Linked DNA regions of Homo sapiens: all the other regions are linked to region 2. Evidence: fine-mapped expression QTL. A gene starts in region 2. Each other region holds a variant in brackets. All regions are shown on one strand. Distances are from middle to middle. Region 1 has its middle 27 kb from the start of C1orf115. Region 2 holds the start of MTARC2 (mitochondrial amidoxime reducing component 2). Region 3 overlaps MTARC2 (mitochondrial amidoxime reducing component 2). Region 4 overlaps MARK1 (microtubule affinity regulating kinase 1).

Evidence for each region. PIP is the estimated chance that this variant, and not a neighbour inherited with it, causes the effect.
Region 1: its variant is the best candidate, but not a certain one, in a credible set for the expression of MTARC2 in whole blood (TOPMed, PIP 0.74).
Region 3: its variant is the best candidate, but not a certain one, in a credible set for the expression of MTARC2 in nasal epithelium (TOPMed, PIP 0.89).
Region 4: its variant is the best candidate, but not a certain one, in a credible set for the expression of MTARC2 in whole blood (TOPMed, PIP 0.88).

Annotation. Positions count from the first base shown.
Region 1 is chr1:220,713,868-220,721,851 of GRCh38, reverse strand. No RefSeq gene overlaps it. Among named protein-coding and RNA genes, the nearest start is that of C1orf115, 27 kb to the right of the region's middle. The variant G/A (reference allele first, on the strand shown) is at 3,778.
Region 2 is chr1:220,744,235-220,752,218 of GRCh38, reverse strand. MTARC2 (mitochondrial amidoxime reducing component 2) reads right to left here and starts at 3,897. Exons shown (of 8, transcript NM_017898.5): 1 at 3,416-3,897. The coding sequence starts at 3,687. LOC124904516 (a long non-coding RNA gene) reads left to right here and starts at 3,404. Exons shown (of 2, transcript XR_007066884.1): 1 at 3,404-4,400; 2 at 5,456-7,899.
Region 3 is chr1:220,772,600-220,780,583 of GRCh38, reverse strand. It overlaps MTARC2 (mitochondrial amidoxime reducing component 2), which reads right to left. Exons shown (of 8, transcript NM_017898.5): 5 at 505-566; 6 at 345-416. Among named protein-coding and RNA genes, the nearest start is that of MTARC1, 10 kb to the left of the region's middle. RefSeq lists a silencer at 5,071-5,225. The variant A/G (reference allele first, on the strand shown) is at 4,748.
Region 4 is chr1:220,652,195-220,660,178 of GRCh38, reverse strand. MARK1 (microtubule affinity regulating kinase 1) reads right to left here. Exons shown (of 18, transcript NM_018650.5): 16 at 6,827-7,078; 17 at 2,345-2,389. Among named protein-coding and RNA genes, the nearest start is that of C1orf115, 34 kb to the left of the region's middle. The variant AT/T (reference allele first, on the strand shown) is at 3,390.

The sequences.
Region 1 (7,984 bases), 30 kb after region 2:
GACACACAGAGTGTAAAAGGTTTTGTCAGGTCAGGTAGCCCCAGGGCTGGGGCCGACCTGAGTTTTTCTTTTAACTCATGAAAAGCTTGTTGCTGTTGGTTGTAATAGATGTAGTTTATCTAATTTATATTTTTATTGACTGTCATCTACCAAAATATTGACTTGAGTCCTGTAGCTATTTGATTTCAAGCTTTAAATTGATCTGGTATTCCTTGCGGGGCTCCAATTGCATCTAAATAGATGTGAGAGTTGAAAGACCCATAAGGGGCTTCTCTCGCTTTATGATGTCTTATTTTTTTTCTTCCTCTGGTTGATGAAATGCCAGGGTTAAAGGGACAGCCAAATGGACTAAAGCACAAGTGCCACTCTAGTTATTTGGCAGAGTGCCCAGTAAAGTTCCACCACAACACCACCATACATCCGCTCGGGGATGAACAAGGGCTGACTGATTGATAAGTTCTTGAAAATTCTTAAGCTCACTGCATCCCTTCAGGTCTCCAAGGAATGCTAAGTTTCCTCCCTGTCATGAGAGACACGAAGTGAACTTAGCGTTGGGAGACAGAAGCTGGATGGCCTTCGGGGGCTGACCTACGGGGTGCCGGACATTGGGATATAGCAGAGAGAGCTTGGCACGACTTATTACTCTAGGCTGTAGAATCCTGGAAAAGAGCTACCATGGAGCCCATGCTTGGTCGACTGGAGGACCACCTTAGTGGAAAGGGGACCATCTGGGACTCTGGCCTGTCATGTGCACAAGCATAATAATTGCTTTTGTTTAACGTGCAGATGGAATATTTGATCCATTCCAACCAGGCATTTGCATCTTGTTGTGCTGTCTTAATTGCCAAAGTTTGTTTTAAGTCTTTAACTTCTATGATCCTCTAGTAAAATGCATGTTTCCTTTAGCACCTATTTTTATTAGTTTTTAGACCAAAGAAAGCTAAACACAATTTTATATTTAATAATGCTTCTTGTATGATTTTTATACCAGATAAGCTAAACTCTACCTTTATATTAGTGTGTTATTAATGTTAAATTTAATTTTAATAAAACCTTGTAGACATATTTATCCAAATTTTCATGTTTGACCATAAGGTAAGATTTTATAGACTCTTTTTAACCTTTTATAATTTTTGTTAAAGACCAGGTTGGTGCTTTAAGAAAAACCTGTTGTGTTTTTACTTTAATGTCCAGTTCACAGAAAAACTGGATGATACCTTTTTAACTTTAGCTAATATGTTTACACACAGAATTTTCTTTACAATTGATGTTTTAAAACTTGCTTAAACTTTCAAAACAATAATTTTTTTAACCTTTTACTGTAGGTAAAAATCCACATTCTTATGCCTCCTTATATTCCTTTTACCAAAGGTATATTTTACTTTTCTTATACACCTTGCACATAAAACTGTTTCTTCAATACTACTCAGGAGGCCTTATTGCTTTTTAAATTATACAACATTTTTTGCATAAAATTTTTTTATAACCTTTTTTCTTTCATGACTTTCACAGACAATTCTTCGACATGTCTCAACTTTCTGACTTATTATAAACATTTCTTTCTTTAAACAACCAGTTAATTTATTTCAGGACAAGAATTTACCATATAACACTCTTTTATGTAAATTCTGCCTCCCCCTTTTTTTCCTTTTTTCTTTTTTTGAAGATAACCATTCTTTTTTTTTTTTTTAAAGCGAACTTTCTTTATGTCTGTGGACTAGATTGTCTACGGCCACAAGATTAGAAGTTACTGTAATACATGTTACACTGTTAACTTTAGCAAACTTTACTTTTGTTGAAAACCTTGTAAGTTTGGGATTTCAGTTATCCTTTGCTATTAATAAGACCTCGTTTAGTCTAAATTAACTTAGAATTAGTATAGATGGCCCTTTTTTTTCCCGTTAGCAAAGCAGCTGCCGCTACAGATTGAAGGCATCTGGGCCATCCACGGGTTACTGGATTAAGGATTTTTGATAGGAAGACCTCAGTGCTTTCGGGATATGCCCTTGTTTACACTGACAACAAAGTGGTATTAGAGTGTTACAGGGTTATGGAGAATACCTTTAATTATCAATTATAGGTTTTAAATTTACCTTGGCTTTTAAAGGAATAGGGTATACTGTTTTTTTCTTAACTACTTGTATATTTCTCTTTCTCTTTTTCTTTCTTTCTTTGACTTTCTCTCTCTCTCTCTCTCTCTTTGACTTTCCTTTTGCCTCTGTCTCTTCCTCTCTTTCTGCCTCTCTCTCTGCCTCTCTCTTTTCTTGACTCCTTCTTTGTCTCTCTGTCTCTTCCTCTCTCTCTTTGCCTCTTTTTCTCTCTGTCTCTTTCCTCTCTTTCTCTCTGCTGGTCTTTCCTTGCCTCTGCCAGCCGCTTATGCTGCTGTTCACTTAACTACTGTTTTGGGAAAGGGGGTCTAAAACCAGCTGTAACTAAGTGTCTCTGTACGGAAACTGGTCTGGTTGCCCTGCCTTGCAGGTTACCTTGTGCCATACCTTTGAAACAAGGGACCTGTCCAGGCTTCCTTCTGATGGCCAACACACCTCTAATGCTGGCCAGTCTATTTCACACAAAGTTCTAAGTTTTCCTGGTGTCATAGTAACACCGTAATCTCCCTTAAATCTTTTCTTGAATTTTTTCGACATAGTTCCTAGCGGGGTGGGCTTATTTGTGCCTGACCCATGCTTCTTCAAGACAAAACACCACACTCACACCACACATACACCACAAAACAAAGAACAGGTAAAAAGGGCACACACACACTTTTGCGGTTTACACCAAACCAAAATCAAAACCAAAATCAGAGTATCCAGAAATCCAGGCCAGGTCAAAACCAGAACCAAAGTATCAAGCAACCTAAGTCAAGTCAAAAACAAAAACCAAAGTGCCGGTACAGGCACACCGTGGGTGATCAGGCCACACTTCCACTCAAATGGAGTGGGCAAGTTCCGAAGACCAGTCCTATCAAGCAATTCAAACCAAGTCAAAACCAATACCAAAGTGCTGATAAAGGCACACCATGGGTGATCAGGCCATGCTTCCACTCAAATGGAGTGGGCAAGTTCCAAAGACTAGTCTTACCAAGTTTCAGATATCCAGACTCCAAGCGCCAGTTCCTTCCCGGTGTTCAGCCACTGCGTTGATCCTCCACAGGGGCGTGCCACACACTGCTCTGGTGAGGTGTCCCACCGGGGCAAATGCCTACCCGGGAGCACTCTCAGGATCCGTGTCGCTCCGGCTGGTTGGAGTCCCCCTCAGGGATGTTCCACAGGGCAGGCTAAAGCTGCCTAAGGAGCTGCCTTGACCGTCCATTAATCACCTCGCTTCCTGGTCAGAGAACCAAGAAATGTAGCAGGACCAGCCATGGAAAAAACCCCTCAGACACCGAGACACTGAAGGGAATGGCTTTAATCAGCTGGGAGTATCGGCAGACTAGCGTCTTAAAATCCGAGCTCGTCAGGTGCTCAACTTCTGTCCCTTTTAAGGGCTCACAACTCTAAGGAGGTCCACGTGAGAGGGTCGTGATCAATTGAGCAAGCCGGGGGCTGCGTGACAGGGGCTGCAAGCACCAGTGGTCAGAGTGAAACAGAACAGAACGGGAGGTTTCACAACGTCCTTCCATACTGTGTCTGGAATCTATAGATAACAACAGTTGCTAGGTCAGGTGTCGATCTTTAACTACCCAGCTTAGGTCAGGCAGGCCCAGGCCTGGTTTCAGATCTGGTTCCTTGGTTTTGGGTCTGGTTCCTAGGCGCCAGGCTACCTGCCTTTAGTTTC[G/A]CTTCTCTTTCCTTTTCTGAGTGTAAAACAATATCAAACAATAGGAGAGGGTCTCTCTCTTCCCTCAGTATGAAACAGTGTTTGGTTTTCTTTGGGCCATATTTGTGTAAATATGTTATTTGTATGTGTTCCAAAATTATGGGCAACTCCTGTAATTCTGATATGACTAAGTGTACATTATCAGTAATAATCATAATTGTCACGTTAAAATTATTATGTGCCACAAAGGTAACAAACTTTCTTGCCAATTGTGTCTTTGACTATGGTGGCCCTAAAACATTTTGTCATCCACAGACAATTGTTCTCTTGCTTTGGTACTGTTTAGACAGTTGTTTTATAATCAGCTATAACTGGTGCCCTTGAATGCAGGTTTCTAATAACTTTGGAGATTGTGACATCAGAACAGTGGAAAAAGGGGCACAGCTTGGTTTTATACATTTTAGGGAGATACGAGGCATCAATCAATATATGTAAAAAGTGTATTGGTTCCATCCGGAAAGACGGGGACAACTCGAAGCAAGGAAGGGGGCTTCCAGGTCACAGGGAGGTGGGAGACAAAGGGTTACATCCTTCTGAATTTCTGATAAGCGTTTCCAAAGGAGGCAATCACATACGCATCTATCTCAGTGAGCAGAGGGATGACTTTGAATAGAATGGGAAGCAAGTTTGCCCTGACCAGTTCCCAGCTTGACTTTTACCTTTAGTTCAGTAATTTGGGGGCCCCAAGATTTTCCTTTCACACTTCCCCCCTATTCTTTTTTAAAATCTTTTAGAGAAAGTATTTTAGAAGAAAATGAGTCTCTGATTTCAGGTTTCATCTGATCTCTCATGGCAAGGATGGTTTATTCCTAGACAGGTAGGTCCCAAAAGTTCATTTTTAGCAGGTTATGAAGTCTCATGTCCTATAAAGAGAAAATAAGGGGAGGAAGGGAGAAAAACAACAGCAAACAAAAGAATGATCCTGGAAAGTGGCTTATGTATGTAAATGGGATGCTGTTATTTTCTTCTGAAGTTTAAGTTGTCTAGCTTCAGTTTGCAGGGCTTTAAGAAACACAGCTTAGTTTTCAGTGATTTCAAATTAGGAAAAATTGGGGAAAAAAAGAAAAGAAAGAAAAAAAATATTGAAAATGTTATTTTGTAGACTTGTAGCCAGGAAAAATTAGAGTTCAGCCCAAACTGTAGAAAATAATAAAAATTGAAAAACATTAGGCAAGACTAGAATCTAACAACAAGTGTACTATAGTTTTTGAAACATATTTTTTCTCTCTCTCCAGTTTCCCATTTTCACTAAAGACAAATCATGGTAGGACCAACCTGCTTTATTTTACCTGTCCAGATTATTTGTATAAAGTACAGCAAGAATAATTATTTTTCACATAGGCTTTTTAAAATTGGCTTTGATGAAACTTTGTTCCATAGAAGAAATATCAAGACATTTTTAAAGCCGAACCCCGCGATGGATTTGTGCCACCACCAAATACCTATGAGTTGGGTGAATTACCTCTCCTCTTGAGGTTCCAAGATAAACCTAGGGCTCCTGGGCCTGTCAGAAGGTGACATTCTTTACTAACGACAGGTCAGAAACCCTGTACAGGGACTCTGTAGACAAAGTATGAGGCCAGTTTTCCCAAGGGCTTTTATTGGCTGCATAAGTCAGGTTTTATTCCTTAAGGAAAGCATGCCATTCCAGTCAAAGCCTTGGTAAAATAACCAGTTTCTCCAATTGTGTCCTCTTACAAATGAGAACAGATTCTTATTGCACTTATGCAAATAACTGTATTGTCGTAAGTTAAGAATACTCACAAATAGTTTCCAAATTCTTCAGAAATCAGGTAGAGAGAAACAAATATGCTCCAAATTTTGTTCATAGGAGTGTACTCAATTGTTAAAAGCTGTCAATAGCTCAAAAGAAAAGTTTCAAGACTCCGAAAAACAAAACAAAGGATCAGCAATGTTTTAAGCAATAAGTCAAAAAGATGAGTACAGTCCATGCAGTTAATTCCTGTTTTGCTTGATATTCACGGACATTTTAGCTCTCCATGAGTCCACCGTGCGCACATGTCATCAGGACTTTGTGTGGTTATATCATGGGCATGCATCCTCAACACTGGCAAAACAAACTTTGTAAATAAACTTTCTAAATTAACTGAGACCCTCTCAGATATTTGGAGTTCACAAATCAAAATTAAAAACTTTTGTACTTCAAAGGACACCATCAAGAAATTGAAAGGACACCCCACAGAGTAGAAGACAATATTGGCACATTATAGATCTTATTATATAAGGGACTTGTATGCAGAATATATAAAGAACTGCTACAACTCAACAATCAGAAAAAGTAACTCAATTTTAAAACAAAGCATTTGAATAGGTAGTACTCCAAGAAGATACATAAATGACCAACATGCATAAGAAAAGACAATCCACATCATTAATCATTAGGGAAACAAAAATTGAACCATGGTGAAATATCACCTCACACCCACTAAGATGGCTATAATAAAAAAGATAACAATAAATGCTGGTGAAGATGTAGATAAACTGGAACCCTCATACATTCCTGATGGTAATGTAAAATGATGTAGCCACTATGGAAAAAAATTTGGCAGTTTTTCCAAAATGTTCTACATGGAGTTGCCAATAACCCAGCAATTCCATTCATAACTTGTGATATTATGATTATATGTTTAGGTTTTCCTCTATGGTTTCTGGCTAATAACTCCACTAGCCCTTGTTACAGTCTTTTACTATAATGTTGAGGTGTTTTAGCCTCAGAAGCAGGCCTCAGGAAATAGAATCTCTCTCTCTGACCTTCTCCTGTCCTCTTTACACCTTCCCAAGGCAAGCCTTTAATCTAACTGTGGGTCAAAAGACTCTCATTCCAGAAGCAGTCCTGCCTCAAACCCTGGGGAAAGGAATGCTATGCAGAGAGGCCACAAAAAGTCTGAATAGACAAGCTTACTGGGTTTAGATCAGGCACTTTTTGTCCAATCACATTTCTACATGGTTGTCAACCGTATCTATGTAATAAAGCCTCAATGACAACCCAAAGGGACATGGTTCAGAGAGCTTCCAGATAGTTGGAACATGGAGATCCTGGAGGGTGGCATGCCAGGAGAGGGCATGGAAGTTCTGCTTTCCCTCCCCCATGCCTCACCCTATGCCTCTCTTCATCTGTATCTTTTGTAATAGCCCTTATAATAAACCTGTAAACACAATTGTTTTTCTCAGTTCTGAGAGCTGCTCCAGCAAACTAATCAAACACAAATTAATCCAGCAAATTAATCCAGGGGGGCATGGGAACCCCAACTTAAAGATGGTTGATCAGAAGTTTTGGAATCCCAGACTTGTGACTGGGTCTAAAGCGGGGGACACAGTCTCAGGGGACTGATCCCTCAAACTGTGAGATCTGACACTATCTCCAAGTAGATAGTACCAGCACTGAATTAGAGGATGACCATTTGGGTGTCATCTACAGAATTCATTGCTTGCTTGCTGGTAGAGAGAAATACCCACATATTTTGAGGTCATAGAAGTCTTCTGTGTTCATTATTACTGTGTTGATGTGAGAACAGAGGGAAAAAAAATGGTTTGAAAAACATGTTAAACATAGTTGTATACCCAAGAGAAATGGGAATACATGTCCACACAAAATATGTACACAAATGTTCATAGCAAAATTATTCATAATAAACAAAAACACAGACACAACCCAAATATCAATGGATGAATGGCTGAACAAAATGTGATGTATCCAACCAATGGAATATTATTCAGCCCTGAAAACAAATGAGGCACTAATACATGCTACAACATGGATGAACCTTGAAAACATCACGCTGAGTGAAAGAAGCTAGTCATCAAAGGCCACATTTTGTTTTATTGCATTTATATGAAATGTCCAGAATAGGCAAATCCATAGAAAAATAAAGTTGGTTGGTAGGTATCTGGGGTTGGGAGAAAATTTGGATTGACCACTAATGGGTACATAGTCTCTTTTTGAAGTGATGAAAACATTCTAAATTAGATTTTGGTGATGTTTGCACACCCCTGAAAACATAGTAAAAACCATCGAATTATACACTTTAAATGGGTAAACTGTATGATATGTGAATGATATCCCACTAAATCTGTTTTTTTTTAAAAAGACTGTCCTTATATAAAAATGTTTGTTAGAGGATACAGCAGCAACTTAGAAACAGGGCTT
Region 2 (7,984 bases):
ATCTTCTCATCTCCCATTCATCCCTTATTAATGTCGCCCTTCACCGTGGCTCACAGCCTGGCCTGTGGCTCCAGACTGTTGTATAATAATACAGGTGTTAACTGCTGAGGTTAACAGTGGGAAGTTGTCACTAGAGGTTTCCCACTCATCACTGTCACTGAAAAACTGGCAACTTACAGGGAGTCCAATTTTGGAACAGGACAAATACAGCAATCACAGGTTAAAAGGTTACCATTTGTAACATACCCCAACCATCTCATTTCCCTGTCAACCTGGGCAATATTATTTTTCACCTCTTGTGCACAAAATGATGCCCAGTGAATGAATAACTAGTTCTATTCTGCCAGATCTGAAAGAAGAGATAAGTCTGGAGCATAGATTTCATCATAACCAAGTTACCCCAACCTAGTCTGCAACACTAAAAGCCAGCACCTTGAATTCACAGGTAAAACATGAGTATGTGGTAGAGGGATCAGTGTAGAAGCCTGGAGCCCCGATTCCCCAAAAGAGCTATAGAGCCCCGAACAACCAACAGCAACGGGTAAGTGGAGCCCAAAACAACAGAAAAAAATATCATTTCTCAATTACAAACTGGCCTGGGGAGCAGGAAGGACTGAAAAGTGAGGGAAAGCAGGAACTCTACTACTGAGTGTGGGAGGAGAAAAACAGCAGGAATTGGGCAGGGAATAACACCCTGGACAATAATAAACTTAAGGGATTCCTTTCTCCAACAGTTCATCATTTGTGCAGAAGAAATAAAGGACTGGCTTCAGTAAGGGTTTAGAGAGATAAAACTGATCAACTCACATATGGCTGCTAAGGAGAGCAGAGATTTCCAAGGTCAGGGAGGACAAGCACGCCCTCCCAGCAACTGCACCAGGCACCGAATGCCAGCATTCTGCCAGGTGGACTTTAAACACTCAATGCTTAGGGTGCTCAAGCCAAGTGTTCACAAGTATACTAAGAGCTTTGAACAAAATACCTTTAGAAATTTGAGACCCAGAGCACTTCCAGAGGAAAATCCCAGCTCCTTGGAACAGTTAGTTCCAAAGACACAGGTTCAGAATGGAATTCATTAAATGAGGCCTTTCCCTGAACTCTAGGAACATTTGTAGTAGTGTTATTAAATTGTCAGGTGGAGAAGACAGCGGCTATCAAACAGAGTTCTCTCCAGCAAGCCTGCTTTCAAATTGTTAATTATGCTTTGATAAATAAAATGTAGTTAAAATGGGGCTTTAGAGACCATGAAGTTCAACCTCATTCTTTTGCAAATGAGACAACTTTGTAGAAGTTCGCCCAAAGTCTCCTGATCCTCAGTGCAATCCTTATAGTTTTATATCATGCACTGGTTTCATACAAACAGCATAAGTTCTGTACTCACACAGATCTGAGTTCACATCCCCACAGCACACACTGGTTTTCTGGCCTTGGATGGGATACTCCTTCATTCTGATACTGTTTCCTTATTTGCAAAATGGTGATAATACTATCTAGCCCACAAGATTGTTATGAGGTTTAAATATGCTAATCTATGCGACAGGATTTAGCTCAGTGTCTGCTGCATTTTAACACTGAATAACATTAATTTCATTGCCTTTCCCTCTACCCCAGGCTTCACATCACCCCACCCCATCCTAAGCGTTTATTGTTTAAAACAAGGGAAAGGTAATACAGTTGTATTTATTTTAGGATGCCAGTGGGAGCAAAAAGCACAGGCAAAGGACACGTATTTTCTTTCCATGGTTGCAGTAGTCATGGCAAAGCAGTGACAAAGAGAAGTGGGAAAGAAACCGTTCTTCAGGTGATCAGAGGAAACGCAGATTAGAACTGGAAACTGTCTGTGAAACCAACCCTTCAAGCGAGGAAGGAAGTAGTGCAACCTAGCCTGCAACACTAATTTTCTCTGGACATGCATCGTGAGAATTTGGTTCTCCCAGTTTTTTGGAAGGTGTCCAGTCCCACACAGCCTGAAGTCTTTCCAGTAATAGGAAGGCTTTTCTTATCCTTCATATTTGAATAAGCTCTAAACATCCTCTTCTTCTTCATGGTCTCGGATAAAATCCTTTAATTATAGCATCAAAATCACCAGGGGGAGATTTAAACATTCTACACGAGTTGGCCCCACTCTTGGTGATTCTGCTTCCGTAGTCCTGGGATGGGAATCTCAGGAAGTTATAGTTGAAAAAGCTCTCCAGGATAAGAAATCTGGGGTAAGGGTGGGAGAATGAAAATCCTCCCATGATTCATATGGTCTGTGTACACAACACTTCTCTAAGACTCTCTGAAGTTTTCCAACACCATGGAAGTCCACATTTCTTTAAGAGGGCAGCAGTCTTCAGAAAACAGTGCATCCGCGTGTCCTGGAGTGAACACAGGGATGCAGGTGGCTCTCTGCTAGAGGAATCCTTGAATGATCAACTTGCAAACCTCCCTCCCCTCGGACACAGGCCCACAGCTAAACCATCTCGGCCAGATAAGAAGACATCTTGGCTGGGCACAGTGGCTCACACCTGTAATCCCAGCACTTTAGGAGGCCGAGGCTGGTGGATTCCCTGAGGTCAGGAGTTTGAGACCAGCCTGGTCAACAGAGTGAAACCCCGTTTCTACTAAAAATACAAAAATTAGCCGGGCGTGGTGGCGCACACCTGTAATCTCAGCTACTTGGGAGGCTGAGGCAGGAGAATTGCTTGAACTTGGGAGATGGAGGTTGCAGTGAGCTGAGATAGTGCCACTGCACTCCAGCCTGAGCTACGAAGTGAGATTCTGTCTCAAAAAAAAAAAAAAAAAAAAAGAAGAAGGCATCTTAATCCTAAGTATGAAATGTCTATGTGTCAGGCCCAAAAGTCCCAAAGTTCCAGGCTGTGAACAACTCTGCCTATGGGAGAAGGGGGGACACTATTCCCTTAATGGCAAGTATCACCTCTGCCCCAGAGTCCCCATGCCACTTGCTCATCCTTCATCAAAGTGTATCAGGCCTCCAGGGCACCCCCAGGATTGGAGAAATGTGAGGAACAAGGCCCAGCAAGGCCTAAGCCAATGTCCTTGAACAACACTTGGTTTCTTTCTTGCTGCTTTCTAGTGCCAATAGCTTTATTTTTCTACTTTGGTATACTAGGATAGAATCACAAACTTTAGAGCTAAGGAGACTTGGAGATACAGGTCAGACCCCCTCCTGTTACAGAGGAGGAATCTCTCGTCTAGGGAAGGGCAAGGGATTGCCCCTACCTACTTTACCAAAAATAAACCTGGCATGAACTTGGCCTTCCCAGATAAACGACCAACGGCCCAACAGTCAGCCCAGAAACTCAGGTGGCAAACCTCTATAGTCCTTCCCAGATAGATCGGGCCCCACCTGCCCCCCCGCTCCTCATCCCAGGCAGGCTCCGCGCTGCCCCGCGCCCGCGCTGTGCTGTACCTGTCCCGCAGGTTGCCGCTGCGCAGCCCCATGGCCGTGCACTCAGCCTCGCTCACCGGCACCCCTTTGCAGGATTTCACCGGGTAGATCCAGAGCTTCGCCACGGTGCCCACCTGCTGCAGCCGCCGGCGCCGCCTGGGCCATGCGCGGCGCCAGGCGACAGTCCCCAGGGCCACGGCGGCCAGTCCTAGCGCGGCGACCCCGAGCCACCTGGGCCAGGGCCGGGCTGGGAGGCCGAGGCGGGCCAGCGCGGAGGAGCTGGAAGCGCCCATGGCAGAGCGAGGGCGGGCGCGGACCGGCGCACAGACCCGGCAGCGACCGGAGACCGGGAGGACGAGGAGGCCCTTAAGGATCCGGGCAGGCGAGAGGAGTCAAAGTTGACCCAACTACGGACCCTCTCACACTTTCACCGCCGAGACGGCAGAGCAGTTCCGCGGAGAGCGGGAATGCCTTAATGCGGTGACCAAGCCTGCGCGGTAATGGAGGAAGACAGGCAGACAGCGGCGGGGGTACCCTGGGCGCCGTGGGAGCGACGCCGCCCAAAGCAAGCGAGCTAATGGGGCGGCCTCTGGGGTGGTCAGTGTCTCCTCCCTCTTCCCCGCCCCTACAACACGACAGTTACCCATGCAACATGACCTTCAGCGCCAGCACTCTGCCACCCCCTTCTCTGCTAATACTGCACGCTTAGTCGCTCGACAAGATCACCGCAGAACGTGAAGGCGGGTTGCCCAACGGAGGATTTACAAACATTTGGGAACGACTTTTTCTGGCAGGTCGCTGTGAGAACTGCAGGACTTTCTGCACACAAAGACACAGTCTAAACCTCTGCACTCAAAGACGAGGAACTCTAGCGTGGCTTATAGGAGCATGACTCAAGGTCCCCCACCCTCCGCTGCCGCCTAACCTCGACCCCAGTAAAATGTCTTCCCGAGAAAGCTCAAGGCAGCCAGGAGAATTCCCCGTTTATTCTAGCCAACACCCGATGGTAAAGCCCCTGACCTCCCTTTTTTAGGATATTTTCTTAAAAGGGCTTACAACTGTGAATCCTTTCTCTGTTGCTTTGAGATGTATATGTATCGCCTACACCTCAGAAGTGTCTTTCTCAAGGACCTGAAAGCCATTGCTCTGAAATGCAGTCATGGGGAGGATAGGCCTCTGTCCCCCAGTCTCTGTGGGAGGATAGAATCCCAGCTTCATAACGGCCAGCTCCAGGCACAGCTGCCCGTCATTAATACTGACCGCCCCTTCATGATTTTTCACTTGATCCCCTGCTAGCTTCCCGGCCCTATTCTCTCCTTCACCCTTTAAAACGCCCATTCTGCTATGCACAAATGAGAATGATCAGCTTTTTCTCCTACTGTAAGTAGTTACTGAGTAAAATCTGTTTTCATGGTTTAACTAATGTCTGGCTTTGTTGATCTTTAACACCTCCATTCAAGCAAGCTATTGGGTTAACAGTGGATTTTCTCAGACAAATTAAGGTTTGAAGTCTTTCAAGTTTTTTGTTGTTGTTCTGTTTTTCAAAAGTTTGTCCCTTAAACTGTGGCACAGTTCTAGGAAAGTTTAAGGAGGCCAACCAGTGGGCCACCCCCCAAATCTGGGCTGGCCACCTCCAGAGAAAGGGGCCCGTTCTGGAGTGTGGGAAGAGACTCCGGGAAGGATGGAGAACCAGAGGAGCCAGGTTCCCTTTGGCTGTTCCTTGTGAAAAGTGAAAGACAAAACAGGGCCTGAATCTCTCCCCACCCAGGAAAAAACCTCAGGCCAGCAGAATTAGTCCCTCAATCCCCATACATTTACATCATGCTTGGCAGCTGCGACTTATGGATTTGTTTTTTAAGCATGGTGTGGTGAATGTGATGTGTGTACACTTGTAGCTGACCCCCTTTGCCTCTCCCAACTCCTGAGGAGGGTCAGAGTCCTCCCTGCCCACAAGCCTGCTGTCAGAGTGAGGGGCTTACAAAGCCATCGCCTCGCTATACGTGAGCTCCCAGACAGGGCAAATGTCTTATTGATTAATCATCTCTTTCTTTCACCACATAGATATTGATCATTCACCAGGCTTCGTCCTAGATTGGCACTGGGGATTTAAAGTTTAGAAGAAGCTGCCCTTCCATCCAGTTCACTGACTCCCCAGAAGACTGACACCTCCCCTGCAAGTCTAGAGGATAATGTCAGAGGAGAAGCAAGGTCAAGATGCAGAGGATGCAGAGGCAAAAGAGCAGCTGAATCTCAGGACAGTGCTGTTTTCAGAGGGCGGAGCTTTGGAGCTGAGACTTGAACATGAGGAGGGGCTTGGAGATGGGTAAAGGAGAGGATTCTGGGCAAAAGGAGCAGCACGTGCAATAGCCTGAAAAAATGGAAGGAACAAGAGAGTGTGGCATGTTTGGGCAACCACCAGCAATCCAGCTGTATTAGGATGTACCTGTGCATGCAGCAGGTGGCGGGAGTTGAGGCAGGACAGGTGGGCAGAGGTCAGATCAACAGGCATCTTATCTCTACTTAATGTGGAGACACCTCAGAATTCTGAACAACAGTCTGGCATGATTAGACTTGGGTGCTAGGAAGGCCATTCTGGCTGCTCTGAGAAAGAGTAACACCAAAGATGGTTAGATGAGTTGCAAATGCCCTAGTTCAGGCTGATGTAATTCCAAATCAAGGAAAAATAACAGTGGGGCTGGAGATAGACATGTGGTTAGGAGAGATGGTCAGGGGACAGAATTAACAAGAGATAGTGATGACAGAACACAGAGCCAGAGGGAGAGGAAGAGCCCACGGGGCCTCCTGGCTCTGTGGCATAAAAGTCTGGGGTGGGATGGGGGTACCATTCTCAGAGATTAAGAATTCAAGAGAAGCTGGGCACAGTGGCTCACACCTGTAATCCCAGCACTTTGGGAGGCCGAGGTGGGCGGATCAGGAGGTCAGGATATCGAGACCATCCTGGCTCACATAGTGAAACCCCGTCTCTACTAAAAATACAAAAAATTAGCCAGGCATGGTGGTGGGCATCTGTAGTCCCAGCTACTTGGGAGGCTGAGGCAGGAGAATGGTGTGAACCCAGGAGGCGGAGCTTTCAGTGAGCCGAGATCGCGCCACTGCACTCCAGCCTGGGCGACAGAGAGAGACTCCGTCTCAAAAAAAAAAAAAAGAGAATTCAAGAGAAGAAGATAGTCTGGGAAAAAAGATGATGAGCCTATTGTGAACAGCGAGTGAGAGGTATCTTTGAGACATCAAAGAAGAAATAGTTACCTAGATAGATGGGTAACTTGACCTTTCCATGCTTCCACCTCCTCATGTGCAAAATGATGGGGATAGACATCAAGTGAGGAACTTTGCCATGGTGAGTGCTGCCAAGTCTTTGCTGTCTTCACCAGCCATTATCTATCATAGCCTGCCCTGTTTAAGCTTCACCAATGCTGGGGTTGGGGGTGCCTTCAGGGGAGCAGGGAAATTCCTTATCAGTAATGTGTACATTTGCAGCCCAGCATCTTCATTTGTAGAATTAGTGAGGGGTGATGAGAGGCTGTATTAGTCCATTCTCACACTGCTATAATGAAATACCTGAAGCTGGGTCATTTATCAAGAAAAAATGTTTAATTGGCTCATAGTTCTGCAGTCTGTACAGGAAGAACGGCGGCTTCTGCTTCTGGGAGACCTCAGGGAGCTTTTACTCATGGTGGAAGACAAAGCAGCAGTGGATGTCTTACATGATAGGAGCAGGACCCAGAGAGAGGGGGGAGGTTCCACATGCTTTTAAACAGCCAGATCTCATGAGAACTCACTCTCAGGATGATAGCACCAAGGGGAATGGTATTAAACCATGAGAAACCAGCCCCATGATCCAATCACCTCCCAGCAGGCCTTAACTCCAACACTGAGGGTTGCAATTGAACATGAGATTTGGTTGGGGACACAGATCCAAACCATATCAAAGGTTGAGGATTCATGAGTCTAATTGGCTGTTTGCATATCTTTTTTCCCTTCTGATTTGAATCAACTTATCTATTTTTTTGTTAATTTATAAGATCCTTTTATAAATTAAGAAAATTACCCTTTTATCATGCCTTCCCAAGTCATAACTTTTTCCCCTAGTTTGTCATATTTTGGCAACTTCTGCTTAGGAAAAATCTTTCTAGTGAATAAGACATCATTGTCTGCCTAGAGGCACTGACATAGATAAAGAAAACTCTGTCAATTAAAATATCAACCAAGAAACCAGAGAAAAAAAGAAGCCTAAAACCCAAATATTACCTTGCTTAGCCAGGTCCTCTTCAGGAAGGTGAGTACCCAGCAGCCAATGGAAGTATTCATCAGGGCCATGTAGCAGTTTGTCTTTCCTGGGGAGATGAGCACATCAGATTATCAGGCAGTGAGGATAGTCAACCTTCAACCCATATAACAAATCTCATGACGCAGGCTAGGCTAAAATATTGTAACAACCTCAACATCTCAATGCTCTAACAAAATAAAAGTTTATTTCTCACTTACATCCCAGTTTGATGCAGGCCAAACATTAATCAAAGGTCCCCTTAGGCCAGGCCCAGTGGCACACACCTGTAATCCTAGTGCTTT
Region 3 (7,984 bases), 28 kb before region 2:
CAGCTACTCAGGAGGCTGAGGCAGGATCACTTGAACCCAGAAAGTGGAGGTTGCAGTGAGCTAAGATCACGCCACTGCACTCCAGCCTGGGGGACAGAGTGAGGCTCCTCTCAAAAAAAAAAAAAAAAAAGTTTATCCAAAGCACTAGAGGATCCATCCAGAAAAAGAGAGGAAGCAACAGTGCTCTCATTAACCAATAGACGCGAATCAGTCAGAAGGTAGACTGGAAGGTTCTCCGGAGAGAAAGGTCATATCTTCCCTAAAGCAGACATAGCACCTAAACCCATAGGTAGTTCTGGGGTGGAGATAATATTTAAAATACACTGGCTGTGGTGGTATTCTACCTCTTCAGGGTGTCCAGTGGCTGTTTCCTGTCTATGACTCCAGTGTCTGGGTCCACCGTTGTCAAAATACACCTGTTATGCAGTAACCAAGGGTTAGGTGATGCTTAGGAACCAATGAATGGGCCACACCACAGTCCTGGGGTCTAGCTAGGCTCCTTACCTGGGGCATGCCATTACCTTTTTCACTTCTACACTACCAATTAGGAGTTCATCCCAGGTATCCTAAGAGAAAAGAGAAAGTTATCTTTTAAATGGTGGCTTCATTAGCCTTTGAGTCTGTTTATTCTTTGGCTCATATTAAGTATGAAACTATTATAGCAGAAGAAAGCAGCACAAGGTGACACCAAGAAATATCTCCCAGAGGACTCAAAGGGAGGCAGAATGCTGGCAAGTTCAGGTCCACCTCTTGACTCCCAGTCTCAAAACCCTGATTCCATCATCGCAGGGATGACAGATCTTCTATAGAGTGCAGTTTGCCATGAGAGTCATAAATTAACAGGAAAGTCAATGTGTAGATATACAATGAGAAATGTGTAACTTGCAAGACAAACCCACACTTCCCTTGTAGCTAAGCTGCAGTGGAACCCAAGTTACAATCTGAAGGTTCTTTGAAGAGTGGGGACATCACCCAAGAGAAGGCAGTCATGATTCACACATTCATTGCTGCCACCTTCACAGACAGGCAGCCTGCTAATGGGGTCCTGATCCCACTGCCACTGACTGTGCCTTGCCTTCCCACCCTTGAACGTGGGAACCACTAACACTTGCCTCAGGGATTAACTCAATCCTCACAACTTTGAGGGAGGCGCTATCATGAGCCCCATTTTACCCAAAGAAATGGAGGACTAGAGAGATACAAAATTGTCTCAAGGTCACACTGGAGGATGTAAAGCAGCTGGGTTTGAAATCTTACTGATTCTGAAGGTAGGACTTTGAACTACCCAGCTTTTAACCATATATATGTTTATATGTGCACACACACATATACAGAAACATATATGAGGAATATAGAGATTGTATTATATATATAATATGATTTGTTTTTATACACACACACATACATATACATATATAAGGTGGTTATATGGATTATATTGTAGGGAGGCAAAAATCACCTCTACCCTCTTAGGGTTTTTTGGCTGGGCCTAGTAATTAAATTGACGTAAGATAGATCAACAGGAGAAATGCATACATATTTATTTAATATAACTTTTACGTGGCACTGGAACCTTCATGACAAAATGAAGATGCAATTAGAGTTGAACACTTACATTATATGCAGAATTGGGCAAAGATGTGGCAGGACTAGGGTACTTAACTAGGTAGAGAGGGACAGGGAAGATGAGGATTGGCTTGACAGGGTTTGTACAGATTTCCCTCAGCCTCAACTTTTTGTCCTTGATGATAAGCATGACACTTTCCTTCTGGTATTGGGAGACATCTTTTACACAGGAATTTCATCTCCTGCTTTTAAGAAACGGAAGGGCAGAGTGATCTTCTTGCACCTCTGTTTTTCAAGTGTTCTTAACTCAAAAAAGTCAACATGCTGGAGCGGCATATTTTGGGTTCATGTGATCTTAACTCCTTCAATATTACATATACACGTATAACATGATATGGTTTGGATCTGTGTCCCCACCAAATCTCATATCGGATTGTCATCCCTACTGTTGGAGGTGGGACCTGGCGGGACAGAATTCAATCATGGGGGTGGATCTTTCATGAATGGTTTAGCACCACCACCTTGGTGCTGTTCTCATGATAGTGGGTGAGTTCTTGCGAGATCCGGTTGCTTAAAAGTGTCTGGCACTTCCCCTTCGCTCTCTTGCTTCCGCTTCTGCCATGTAGGAAGCTGGACCCCCTTTGCCTTCCACCATGATTGGAAGCTTCGGGAGGCCTCCCCAGAAGCAGAAGCCGCTATGCATCCTGTACAGACTGCAGAACCATGAACCGCTTTTCTTTCTTTCTTTCTTTTTTTTTTTTTTTTTTTTTGAGACAGAGTCTCACTCTGTTGCCCAAGCTAGAATGCAGTGGCGCAATCTCGGCTCACTGCAGCCGCAATCTCCGCCTCCCAGATTCAAGCAATTCTCATGCCTCAGCCTCCTGAGTAGCTGAGATGACAGGCAGTGCCACCATGCCCGGTTAATTTTTGTATTTTTAGTACTGATGGGGTTTCGCCATGTTGGCCAGGCTGGTCTTGAACTCCTAACCTCAGGTGATCCGCTCAACTCAGCCTCCCAAACTGCTGGGATTTCAGGGTGTAAGCCACCGCACCCAGCCTAAACCTCTTTTCTTTATAAATTATCCAGTCTCAGGTATTTCTTTATTGCAATGTGAGAACAGACCAATACATATATCCAGACAGATTACAACTTTTTGACTTTATGATGCATTTATTGGGAGGTAACCCCATGGTAAGTCAAGAAGCATCTGCACACGGGAGGGGATGTATGTAGAGCTATATAAAGGTTGCAGGCCCCTCCGTGAATAGGGAGGCCATCTGTATTCTTTATCTTTAAGGCACCATGCCTGTCTCTGCTGCTACCTACTGATTTAAGGTTTGAATTTCACAGGGCAATCCTCTGTCCAGGTCTCAAGGTAGGAGGCATTGGGGTACGGGGCCTCACTACTGCCTCCATAAATCAACAACATAGACTGTGAGTCTAAGGAATTCGGAGAAACAATCGTCTTGACTTAGGAACTAAAGAAACCTATTCCTACTCCCCTGGCTGCTTCGCTTGGGCAGGAGGCATAAGAGGTCTGAAGTCTCTGCAGGAGGCAGAGCAGGGCAGGGGGTAGGGACTAGCCCCATAACTTTTCTCCCTCTGCCGCTGATGACCAGGCCATGTCTGGTCCTCCTTCAGTGGCAAGCCAGCCCCTCCAACCCCCTCCCGGGCCTATAGTGGTGCTTCAGCAAATGCAAATGATTCTCCAGTACCTAACCGGGTCTTCAAAACTCAGAAATCTCCTACAGGGCATGACCACAGCTAGAGACTAAAGTAAGGAGGTCTCCATGGATGCACTGGGTTCTAAACCATCCTTTAGGAAACTGCTGCTTTGTGGAAATAAACGCCACGGTCCAACCAACCAGTTGAGGATAACTGCGTGTACACAACATGTGTAAGGAATGGAATCGCCATGTCCTACTCAGGACTTATTACAAGCACTCCTAGCCAGTAACTTATTGCGAAGAACTACAAGACAACCACAGCGGGTGGCTAACCTCCTGGTAGATCGTGACCTCCGATGGGGTGTGACCCAGGAAGGCAGCTACTGTACTGGGAAGTAAGGATCAATGGGTACCCTGGCCTGAGATGCAGCCAGGAAGGCTGGGCACCTACCACACGAGGGCGCTGCGGACCCAGGAATGGAAGCCGACCCAGCCGCGCTGTGCTGAATGGACCCTGGCTCTCCAAGTATCTTCCGTTCAATTTTTTGTGTGTGAGAGCTAAAGAATTTAAGATTTCCAAGACACATAACGGTGGCAATTCTGCGTCGTTATTATGACAGAAGGCAGGGAGTCTGACAAATTCAGTTAGTCATCTATTCTCACTGTTAGACAACCGCAAGGCCGCGTTTAAAAGAGCAAATTGTCTGGATTCGTAAGAATCGTCCGCAACACCCCCAAATGCCGGCTCTAGTTACTTCCTAAAATATTAATCACCACCTATAATCATATATATTCTCAACCTAATCTGATCATTGTCAGCATTTTGGTGTAAAGCATTATTTGCAGTAAAAAAAATACTATGCTAATTAAGTTTAAATGCAATTATTAATTCAGTTATTTAAAATAATAAATTATATACTATTAAAATAAATTTAATAATGCATGAAATTAAAATTTCCATTACATTCTACTAGACATACAAAGAGTGAAATACGCTATTCAGCAAGTTCCAGTGTCTTCTCAAAGGAAGACATACACGCGACCAACAAGCACATGAAAAAATCCTCAATATCACTGATCACTAGGGAAATGCAAATCGAAACCACAATGAACTACCATCTCACACCAATCAGAATGGCTATCACTAAAAAGTCAAAAAATAACAGGTGGCGAGGCTGTGGAGAAAAGGGAATGTTTATATACTGTTGGTAGGAATGTAAATTGGTTCAACCACCATGGAAAGCGATCTGTAGATTTCTCAAAGAACTTAAAATAGAACCATCATTCAACCTAGCAATCCCATTACTGGGTATATACCCAAAGGAATATAAATCATTCTACCACAAAGACACATGCACGCGTATATTCATCACAGCACTGTTCACAACAGCAAAGACATGGAATCAACCTAGATGCCTATCAACAGTGGACTGGATAAAGAAAATGTGGTATACATACACCATGGAATACTATGCAGCCATAAAAAAACACAGATTATGTCCTTTGCAGCAAC[A/G]TAGATAGAGCTGGAGGCCATTATTCTGAAAGAATTACTGCAGGAACAGAAAACCAAATACAACATGTTCTAATGTATAAGTAGAGGCTAAATGTTGAATACACATGGATACAAAGAAAGGAACAACAGACACGGGAGCCTACTTGAGGGTGGAGAGTAGGAAGAGGGTGAGAATTGAAACACTATAGGGTACTATGCTTATTACCTGCCTGACAAAATAATCTGTACACCAAACCCTCAGCAACACACAATTTACCTATATAAAAAACCTGCACCTGTACCCCTGCACCTAAAATAAAAGTTGGAAAGATAAAAATAAATAAGTAAATAGGTAGAGAAAAAGATTCCGGGGTCTTCCCTAAACACAAAATCAGCTCGAGACGCTTAGTGCGCCCCCTGCTGGTAATCAACCTTTCCGCAGTCTGCCGAAATCCAGGCCCCAATGACATTTACTTAGAGTGATGGGATAAAACTATGGAGTTTTCAAGATGAAAGAAGCAAGGTAAGGAAGAGGAAAAGGCAAGGAGAAAGGGGAGTACTATACATAAGGGTTCAGCTCTGAGGAAATAATCCTGAGGATTTGCTATGAATGAACGTGTGCACATCTTGTAAATACTAAATTAGGACTAGAGGGTTTTCCATCACAAGCAGCACCCAGAGAGAGAAGTGAAATAAGGGTGGGGCGGGTGGGTGTTGTGGAACACACAACTGAGGGTGTTTGTCTGTTTGAAACCTTCATAGATCCATGTAGGCATTTGCCAAGCAAAAAAATTGGATGTATGAAACTTAAAAGTTGACTACTAATGGAGAGTCTCCCTCCCTTTTTTCCTGTCTCTCTCTCCGTAGATGCATACGAATGTGTGTACACACACACACACACACGCACACACACGGGTCTATATAGACACACAATTGCATGGCTATATCCACACAGACAGAGGAAGTAGATACAGATGTGAAGAATATATATCTCTACCTATATAGTCCATCTCTCTATGTATAGCCAGAGAGAGTGCACAGTCAGGTGAGAATGGAGGCCAAGGTGAGTTCTTAAATACCAGCTGACCACAGAAGTATAAGACCGCTGAGAGTGAGGTGGAAAGAGCCTGCATGGCCTGCCGTGGCAATGGGCTATGAAAGACATCACTTGTAAGACCACAGATCAGAGCAGCAGTTCAAATTAGATCCAGGCCACCAAGCCTTTGGGATTCTGTTCCTTGAGCCTCCTGCCACCACCATCCCAGCCCCTTCATCTGCTTAATCTCTGTCGCAGGACTGGCGCCTCACTTTCACTGCTCCTGGTTTTCTACTCATGTGTTTATAATATTGTGTTGTACGCACAATTGTTAGAAACAACTTTAAACTATTTTGTGATAAGTCGAGGGAATATGTAAATAAGACTATTCTGTTTCTAAATCCATAGCAATTTTTCTGACTTGATATCAATGACTCTACATGATTATAGAAAGCTCCAAGTCACCTCCTGGAGACTGGCTAAATATACATGGGACATATGTGCAATAATCATTATTCGGGTATTAAAAAAGGGTGCTCCCAGTCTAGACAACATGATATAACCTCGTGTCTCCCAAAATTACAAAAATTAGCCAGGTGTGGTGGTGTGTGCCTGTGGTCCTAACTACTCAGGAGACTTGAGGCAGGAGGATGGCTTCAGCCCGGGAGGCAGAGGTTGCAGTGAGCCGAGATCACGTCACCGCACTCCAGCATGGGCGACAGGGTGAGACCCTGTCTGAAAAAAAAAAAACGAGGATGTGAGTCTATATCTATTAACACTGAACACTTTTCAAGGTGTTGCTGAGTGAAAAAAACACAAGGCACATTTTATATGTGTGTGTGTGTGTGTGTGTGTGTTTATATATAATAGAGGATGATTCCATGTACATAAAAAATCTGTATACATAGCTATGTGTATACATTTATAGCAATAAATCTGGAAGGCTCCTCACCAAGATTTAAACATTATTTGTTTTTCATAATAAATCTTAATTTTTTTCTTTTGCCTTTTTTGCTTTATTTTTTATAAGAGGTATAATCCCAACAGCACATCTTAAAAATAATTTTTGTCTAGATAGTTCATTAGATTCTCTGTGACATCAAATACATGATGTCTTTTCCAACACCATTTCTGCAATTCTCTGACACCAATTGGGTGTCCAACAATTCAACTCAATTCTGACACTCACTACTAGAAGCAAGTAGAGATCCCTTAGGTAAGGGCTCAGTCCTACAAGACTGCCCCCCATCCCAGATGCCAGCCAAGTCCAGGCCACCCATGCTTCTCACCAACTGGCTATAAATTGAGGGTACCCACAATCCCCTCCTAAGGTTTGACAAGTTTCTAGAATGACTCCCAGAACTCAAAAAAGGCTTTACTGTTGTTCCTGACTTATTATAAAGGACGCAAGTCAGGAACAGCCCAATGGAAATGCTGTCTAGGGCAAGGGATGGGGATGGAGGCTCTCCGAGTTTTCATGCCCTCTCCGGGTGCACCACCCTCCCAGAACTTCAATGTGTTCTCCAACTCAGAAGCTCTCCAAACCCCATCTTTCAGGGGTTTTTTGGAGGTTTCATTTCATGTAAATGATTGATAAAATCATTGGCCATTGGTGACTGAACTCAACCTCCAGCCCCTCTCCCTTCCCCTGAGATCAGGGCTGGGTGGGGCTGAAAGTCCCAACCCTCTAATCATGGCTTAGTCTTTCTAAGAACCAGCTCACATACCAAAGCTGTCTAGGGACACCCCTCTTTCCCCAAGAGTCATCTCACTAGCATAAAGTCAGGTATGATTGAAAGGGGCTTGCTATGAATGACAAAAGAAACTCCTCTTACCCCGTCACTCGGGAAATTCCAAGGGCTTAGGAGCTTGTGCCAGGAACCAGAGACGAAGCCCAAATATATATTTCCCATTATACCAGAGTTAAATGATCTCAAACCGAAAGTTATTTTTTCTATTCTTAAGACATACAAGCTAATGAATATTCCTTAATGTCATATTTCAAAATCTAATCACTCTTCTTATAAAGAAAGACCATGCCATGGTTCCCGCAATTGGATCCAGTTCATATCAAGCAAGTCTTCAGCATCCACTGCCCCCAAACACACACACACACACACAAACACACACACACACACCCTGCCCAGAGTGCCTCTTTCTCACTGGGATCCTTCAAGTCTGATGTCCTGACTTCAGCTGCAGCCCTCTACCTACTGTAGCCT
Region 4 (7,984 bases), 92 kb after region 2:
ATTCTGGTGGAATCGGCATCCTGGAAGGGTCCTGAGAGATCAGTTGACTGAGCACTCATTTTAAAGATGGAACTGATGGCTGGAAAACTTAAAATTAGTTTTCTGTGGCTCACACCTGTAATCTCAGCACTTTGGGAGGCCAAGGTGGCAGGACCATGAGCTCAGGAGTTTGAGACCAGCCTGGCCACCATGGTGAAACCTCGTCTCTACTAAAAATACAAAAATTAGCCAGGTGTGGTGGCAAGCGCCTGTAATCCCAGCTACTTGGGAGGCTGAGGCAGAATTGCTTGAACCTGGGAGGTGGAGGTTGCAGTGAGCTGAGATCGTGCCACTGCACTCCAGCCTAGGCAACAGAGCAAAACTTTGTCTCAGAAGAAAAAAAAAAATTAGTTTTCTGAAGTTATAGAGCTAATGAGTTGAAAAGTGAAGACTAGAATTTAGGGATATTATTCTAAGTCTAGTTTCCTTCTATTCCACCTTAAGATGACCTTAAGACAATGAAATATTTTTCTGCATGGTCTCACAGACATTACCACTGATAATGTCCATTGTAGAAAGCTCCTGGAAATGTGGATATTAATATAATAACAGCTAACATTTATTGAGTACTTACTAGGTGCAGGAATTGTCCTAAGTGCCTAAAATGTATTAATTACTCATTTACCCCTCAGAACAACCCTATGAGGCAGTTAGAGTGAGGAAATGGAGGCACGCAGAGTTGAAGTAACTTCCCCAAAGCCACACAGTAAGGTAAGTGGTGGAACATAGCTGAAACCCATGCACTCTGGCTGAGAACCTATACTTCTAACCACAGTATCACCTCATCTCCCTGAAATGACAGAACCTTATTATAGCTGGCTTGATCCCACCTATGTTCCTTGCTGTTTTTTTTCATCTGTAAAATAGGCATTTTCACCTAGTTGTTGTGAAAATTAAATGATCAGAAAGTACTTTATAGTTAGTATTCAATAAGTCAGTTCAAAAGCAAAAATAGAACCAAACCCAACAACAACCAAACAAAAGGGAATGTGAAAAGTATTGTGTAAACATTTATAAAATATCAGTTACTAATTCTTATAATGTAATAAAATTATATAGTTACATTAAAAGGACAAAAATGCAACTATTAAGGGCCACTTGCAATGCCACACACTACTAAATGTCTCAGAGGGAAATTTAGTGGAAATATAGGATGAAATGCAAGGAGGGGCTCAAAAGTGAAGACTAAGTGAGGGAGAGGCTAAGAACAAGTCCTCCATGTTTCTATAAAAGGCAGAAGAAAGTGAAGAATATTTGTCTTGCTCCCCTGTGGCTCCCTACTGTGGTGACTCAGGTACCTAACTCTACAAAGAAACATTTCAACTATTATTACTAAATGTAAATATAGCACAGTTTGTTAAAAAGACTACATGGGAATGCTATAGTTTTCCAAAGTTAATTATGTTTTATATTTTAAGTAACTTGAAAAGTAGAAATCAAATTGGAGGTTTGTGTTCAGCTGGTCACAATCGTTCCTGAATGAAGCCAGAGCCTTTCATACTGTGGAATACTTGTTGGTTGTAAAATTTACATTGCATCCCTTAATGCTTGGGTACACTCAAAATAAATTAATGTCTTCATTTCTTAAATTTCCCGTTTGTAAAATATGAACACAAGTACTAACATGTCCATAATGTGGTCCCTAGAACAGCAGCATAAGCATCTCCTGGGGACTTGATAGAAATGCAAATGCACAGGCACCTGCCTCGGCCCCTGAATCAGAAACCCTGGGAGTGGGATCCAGCAACCTTTTTATCAAGCCTTCCCTGTAATTCTGATTGTGCTCAAGTATGAAACCCATTGCCAGAATGAATATACAACTAGCATGAAATGTCAAAAAAAGAAATCCCCAAAAGTATGCCTGGATAGAATTTTTAAATGTGGTCAAACACTGAATTATCACCTAAAATATATTACTAATATCAAATCTTCCTACATGTAATTATCTCCCTGTTCTGTGTTATTTGTGCTATTTGACTCAGACTAATTTTAGTTACATTACTTTAGTGAGAAAAATATCAGTACATTTAATCTATTAATTCTTTAGCTTGACATACTTTATAGAACAGAAAGCCTATTTCTATACCAAGTACACAATTCAAATGCATGTTTGGAAAACAAACTTAAAGTTGACTGACTTGAATGCTAGGTAACATTATGAAAACCCACCCCAATATAAAAATCTAAAATACGCATGCTATCTAGTTATTAGATCTATTCATGATCATTAAGTGCTGTAAGTATTTCAAAAGTACGTTTTCATACACAGGGACCTAGCAGCGAAGTATTAATAGTGGCTCCTCACCTTGAGGTGTCGGTTCTGCCACTGGCTTCGCCTTCACTTGGATCCCTCAAAACAAAGTGAAGGTTGAGATTTAATGATAAAAGTAAAAAATATATCAAGAAAACCTATATCTAAAATTATTTTAAAATTAGCTTGTTGAGCAAACTTCTACCATGACAGTTTTCTATTACTAGTCAGTCTGAGACTATTTCTCATATTTTTCACCATAACCGCATGTAATTTATCATTTATTGAGCGTCTACTCATTTTTGTCAAGAGGCAATATGAGGTGAAAGTTTGAAATTTTTTTTTCATAATCTTCCAATTCCCAGCCATGATTCATTTGAAGTCATAATTTATCTTTTGGTTTAGTTTAATCTAAAGTTAAAACTATTTAATAATTATCAATAGCAAGATTCAACTTCAAATTTGTAATTATGTATAATTCTAGTAGTCGCTCAATTTAGAAAATATATACATTAACCTTGTAGTTAGCAAATAAACACCAATTTCCAAATAAGCAATTTCTTTTAGAAGTTATGCTAACAATTCATGCACATGATAAAATATCACAGCAAATTAACAGCCTATCCATGTAGGCAAGTCTAAAAACACGGATTCAATCTTAAATAAAAACACTGACCTTACCTGGATATCCACCTGCGAAATAAAACCAGGAAAACACTACTAATTGTTCTGTGTTGCATGTAATTAATATTTTTGAAGTCTACCAAAATTTTAATGCTTTGTTATTTTTAAAGGTAATTAAATATCTTGTGATAAAGGGTAAAATACTATTAAATAGTGGGAAAAATCACCAACTTGAATCCTTAAGTTAATACTGTCTTAATGTTTTAGCCATTCCAGAAACATTTCTATTATTTATGTAAAACGAATGCAATAAGAATAAAATCAGTGGTACTCTCCCATCCCCCAAATTCATAAAACACACCCACATACCAAGCCCTAAAATTTTAAATTGTTCTTAAGAATATGAACGCCTTATGCCTCTCAGGGTCTTTAACTAATACATGCCTTTCTTAACAAACATATTATGAAAAAAAAA[AT/T]TTTTCTATCTGAATTTAAAAGAATACTAAAATGTATTCTCACATTCAAATGTAATTTCTTAAATTTCTATTTTTAATAACTGGCATTTTCATTGGGAAGTATAATAAAAATTCAATGCCATCTATACAAATCCATTTTTATTATAGCACATTGAAATAAATAAAACATTTTTGAGCAGGCTGAAAGTGAAATGTACATTTTCAGTTACATGTAGATGAACTGATATACACAGATGGGCAGTATACCAACTTGGCAAGCAAGACAGTAATGCTGTTGACTCCCACTGCTAAGACAAAATTCCTTTAGGAAGGGACAAAAATCTCACTGGACTTTTCTGTCCTATTTATATTATGCTTTATTATTCACTATTAGCAAACACCTATACCACAGCTGCCAAACTTAAAACATTAGGAGTGAAATGTCCCTTAGACCCTATCTCCTCTGCTGTAATTGACTGAAATAGCAATTGACCCATACCCTGTTCCTGCCTACCTGGATGCCAGTAGGAACATTGGAAAAATTTCTGCTACTTGGCAATTGTTTCAAAGAGCCCAGGAAGTCTGCTTTAAGTAGCCATGGTAGGAGGCAGATGGAGCTACAGAAGGTGCAGCTGGCTCTAACAGCATATGCAGCACAGCATGCTCTCCAACACTTAACACTTAAAAAACAATTACCTACAGATAGCAATATATACTCAACTGAACAAACTGGGTTGTTCCCTATATAAGAATGAGCTATGGTTAGAAAATCATAAGGTTTGGTGTAGAAGTGAGCCATGCAGGTATTCAGGGCAGAGAATTCCAGGCAGAAGGAATAGCAGGTACACAATGCCAAAGCAGTGCTTAATGTACTTGAGGACAGTCTGGTCCCTGTGTGGCTGGTGTGGAAGCAGCAAGGGGAAGAGTGGGAGAAGAGGTCAGAGCAGAAATGGATGGCCAGGTTACACAAGGCCCCACAGGCCACAGTGAGGGCACAGAATTGTATTCTGAGCAAGGTGAAAGCTAATCAGGGGCTTTAAATTTAAGAGTGACATGATCAGACTTGACATGACACTGCTGAAACAGAAGAGGAGGACAAGGACAGAAACTAGGAGACCTATGAGGAAGTGAAAGATGAATAGTGGTTCAGAGTATGAAGGCAGTGGCGGGAGTGATACAAGCAGTTAAATCCTGGAAATGCTGTGAAGGTAAAGCCAACACAAATTGCCAATGGATCTGAGGTGGTATGAGGAAAAGAAGTGTCAAGGATAACTCCAAGGCTTATGGTCTGAGCAACTGTAAGGACAAGGCTGCCAATTTCTAACACGGTGAAGAATGAGGGAGGGACAGGTTTGGGAAGAGGAACGAGAGTTTACTTTTGAACATGTTCTGTTTCAGAGTCTATAACGTATCTAAGTGGAGAGGCTGAGCAGCAGTTGGATATGAGTCTGCAGTTCAGCAGAAAGATGTGCGCTAGAGATACAGTTAGGAGTTGTTCATACAGGACGGAATCTAATGTCATGAGCCTGACTGAGATCACCAAGAGTGTAAGGAAAACCAGAGAAAAAAATGTGTCCAAAGACTGAGCTCTGGGGCATTCTAATATTTAGAGGTTGGGGGAAAGGCAAGGGAATCTGAAAAAAGCCAGCAAAGGAGCCTGAGAAGTGATAGCTAGTCTGTGAGGTAGGAGAAAACCAGAGCCAAGCAAGGGAAACGCTTTAAATGTGTGGAATGTTTCAAGATAGTAAGTTGCTCACAGGAAGGCAGGAGACCCATCAGTCTCACTCACTGCCGTAGCAATAGCTCCTACAAAAGGGCCTTGCGTGTAGTAGGTCTCCACATATGTGTTCAAAGACTATATGGCAATCTTTATCAGAACCTCCCAACAGACCAGCTCTAAGGCACTTTCTTGCTTTGGCATTCTATCTCACGACTTCCTTTCCAAAGTACTCTGTTTCCCCTAGAGTCTAAATTTTTGTTGCAGTTAAGAGAAATATTTTGCACAATGCTTAATGCACAATTAGTAATCAAGCACTAAACTATAAACCTATTTTTCTTCACTTTAAAATTAATTCTGGCTTAACCATGAGAAAGTACTGGCTTTTTGAAATGGCCTTAAATAGACAAATTCCAAAAGCAGAAACTACTGATAATCTGACTAGTACCCTGCAGATGGCCGGCTAACACTATGATCTAACTTCCATGCTGACTCTGTTGGTGAACTTTTAGTTCTTTCTCTAGCAAGTTTCATGCTGCATAGTAATTGCCCCAATGGTACAAAGTCACTGACTGATATGGTTAGAAATTTATGTTACATTTGAGGCTTTAAAGTTTTTAATTCAGCTATGTGATACTGGGCAAACTGATGTATGAACCAAGCCTATAAATAGCTCCATGACAAGGCAAGTAAGACTGAAGCTGCTTCTTCTCTTTTCCACATCCACTCTTTGAAATCCTAGAAACACTAATAACATTGGAAACTAAGTATTTAATTAGTATTTCTTAAAGCAAGTATAATTATTTCTTACCCATCATTGAAGGCTCAGCTGAAATGATTATATGATAGGGTGCCTTCACTGTCTCCCTAGATAGAAACAATTGTGTCTTCCTCTGGAATCCAGCATGTTGCCCACACTTTTTAGCACATGTTCTGCTTTATATCATGGCTAGTTGTTTGTCTGCTTCTTACAAGACTATAAGAATCTGGAGGGCACAGATGCCATCTTACCTATCTTTAGATTCTGTTCTGCACCTAACACAGTGCTTTGTCTGTCGCAGGGCTTAAGTAGGCATTTAGTGGGACCAGGAATAGATGAAATCCACATCAGCCTGCATTGTAGTAGCAACTTGTATCATCAATGTGCACTGTACACGTATGCATAGTAAGCATAGTAAGTATGCTTACTTTTTAGAAAGTATAATTGTATTGTTTAAGTAGATTAGACCTTTACTATACATGTATTCATTTTGTGTTTACTATGTTTTGATGATAAGGTTTTATGATGTAAAATTGCATAAGTGATCTGTGACTCTGGTGTGTAGGCTTTTTATGCAAGAAGAAAAAAATGTAAATTATATATTATTAGTAAGCAATTTAAAAGTATTGTCAAGATAAATTTGAAGGAAACATGTAAACTCATTTCTTTTCCTCAATCAAGGCTTTTAAATATAAAATAATCTTTTGTTAAAACACACATTTTTGAAGTTAAGTCTTTGTTCTTTCCATTTTATTTTACAGATTTTTAAAATCTCATTTTGTCCATTTTTTCCTTTCTCTCTCTTAAGGAAAAATACTTTATGTCTTCCTAGATTTTTTTCTTCCAACTCTGTAAAAGAGCAGCTCTAATGAAATGTTATGAAACCATTTTAGAAAATTATTATAAAGATTTTTTTAAAAAGTCTAGTTTCCTTTATAATTTCTAGAGGAATCAAAACACGACAGTACATTGGTACTGACCTGCGAACAAATTTGGATGTGATTTTGCTTATTATACCAGTTGACGTTCCCCTTCTGGCATGTGCAAATGCACCCGTTTCATGGGATGGTGAAGCAGGTGGCCCATTATAAGCAACGCTGCGTCGCTCCCGGAGCTGTTCACCATGGAAAGTGCTTCGGCTTGAGCTCCCTCGGGGAAAACGGGTCCGGTCTGGAGTCGCAGTACTAATACTGTGAGCAGATGGGGAAGCAGCAGGCACTCTCTGGGTTGTACTGCTGGGACAAATTAAGATATATCATTCAGAATAATGACAAGAAAACCTTTCACTCAAGCTAAAAACTTGAAACAAATAGCTATGGCTACTTCTTTTGGCCCTACTTTATTTGTTCACATTAGAGATGTGAGACATGGGTTTGGAGTAAAATTTCAGTTTGAAATTAGGTACCTTTTGTTTGGTCACTAAAAATCAAGAAATGACTGAAACAGGGACACAAAGATAAATACTTTTCAGTATCAGGAATGCCAAACCAGGAGTACTGCAAATATTTTTTTAATATTCTCCTGAAACCACTTAGCAATGTTGAACACAAATTTTATTGTTTATTAAAAAGGCTTTGAATAAAATAATTTCCTATTTCTAATTTAGGCCTCAGTGATGCTACAATACCACATGGCACCACCAATATGCCTAACAAATCTAACAGAGGGTTAAAATGTTCAGATGTACTGAATTTGGGAAATCTTAAAATAGAAAAATACTAGAAAAACAATTATACAATTTTATATCTGAACAGGCTCTTTGAGTTCATCAGTTTCATTGACAGGAAAACTGAAGCCTGGTTTTATTAAGAACAAGGAATTGAGCCTGATCATTATCTGCGGGTCTCAACTCACAGTCTAGTGTTTGTTCGTATGGTTTAAATAATAAAAAAATCAATTTACCTAAATGACAAATTAAACAGCAATTTTTAACTTTATAGACGGATGTAAAATCAAATCCTTAAAAAAATTCCTCTAGAAAATGATTTAAGTTATATGCAACATTTCCAATAACAGCCAAAGTACATAGAAAGTTTATGTTACAATTCAATTTTTCCTCCATAACAAACACTGAATCTTATTAGAAAGGTCTTAATGTGATGGTGACTATCATGTATTTTCACATGGTGCTATATTTT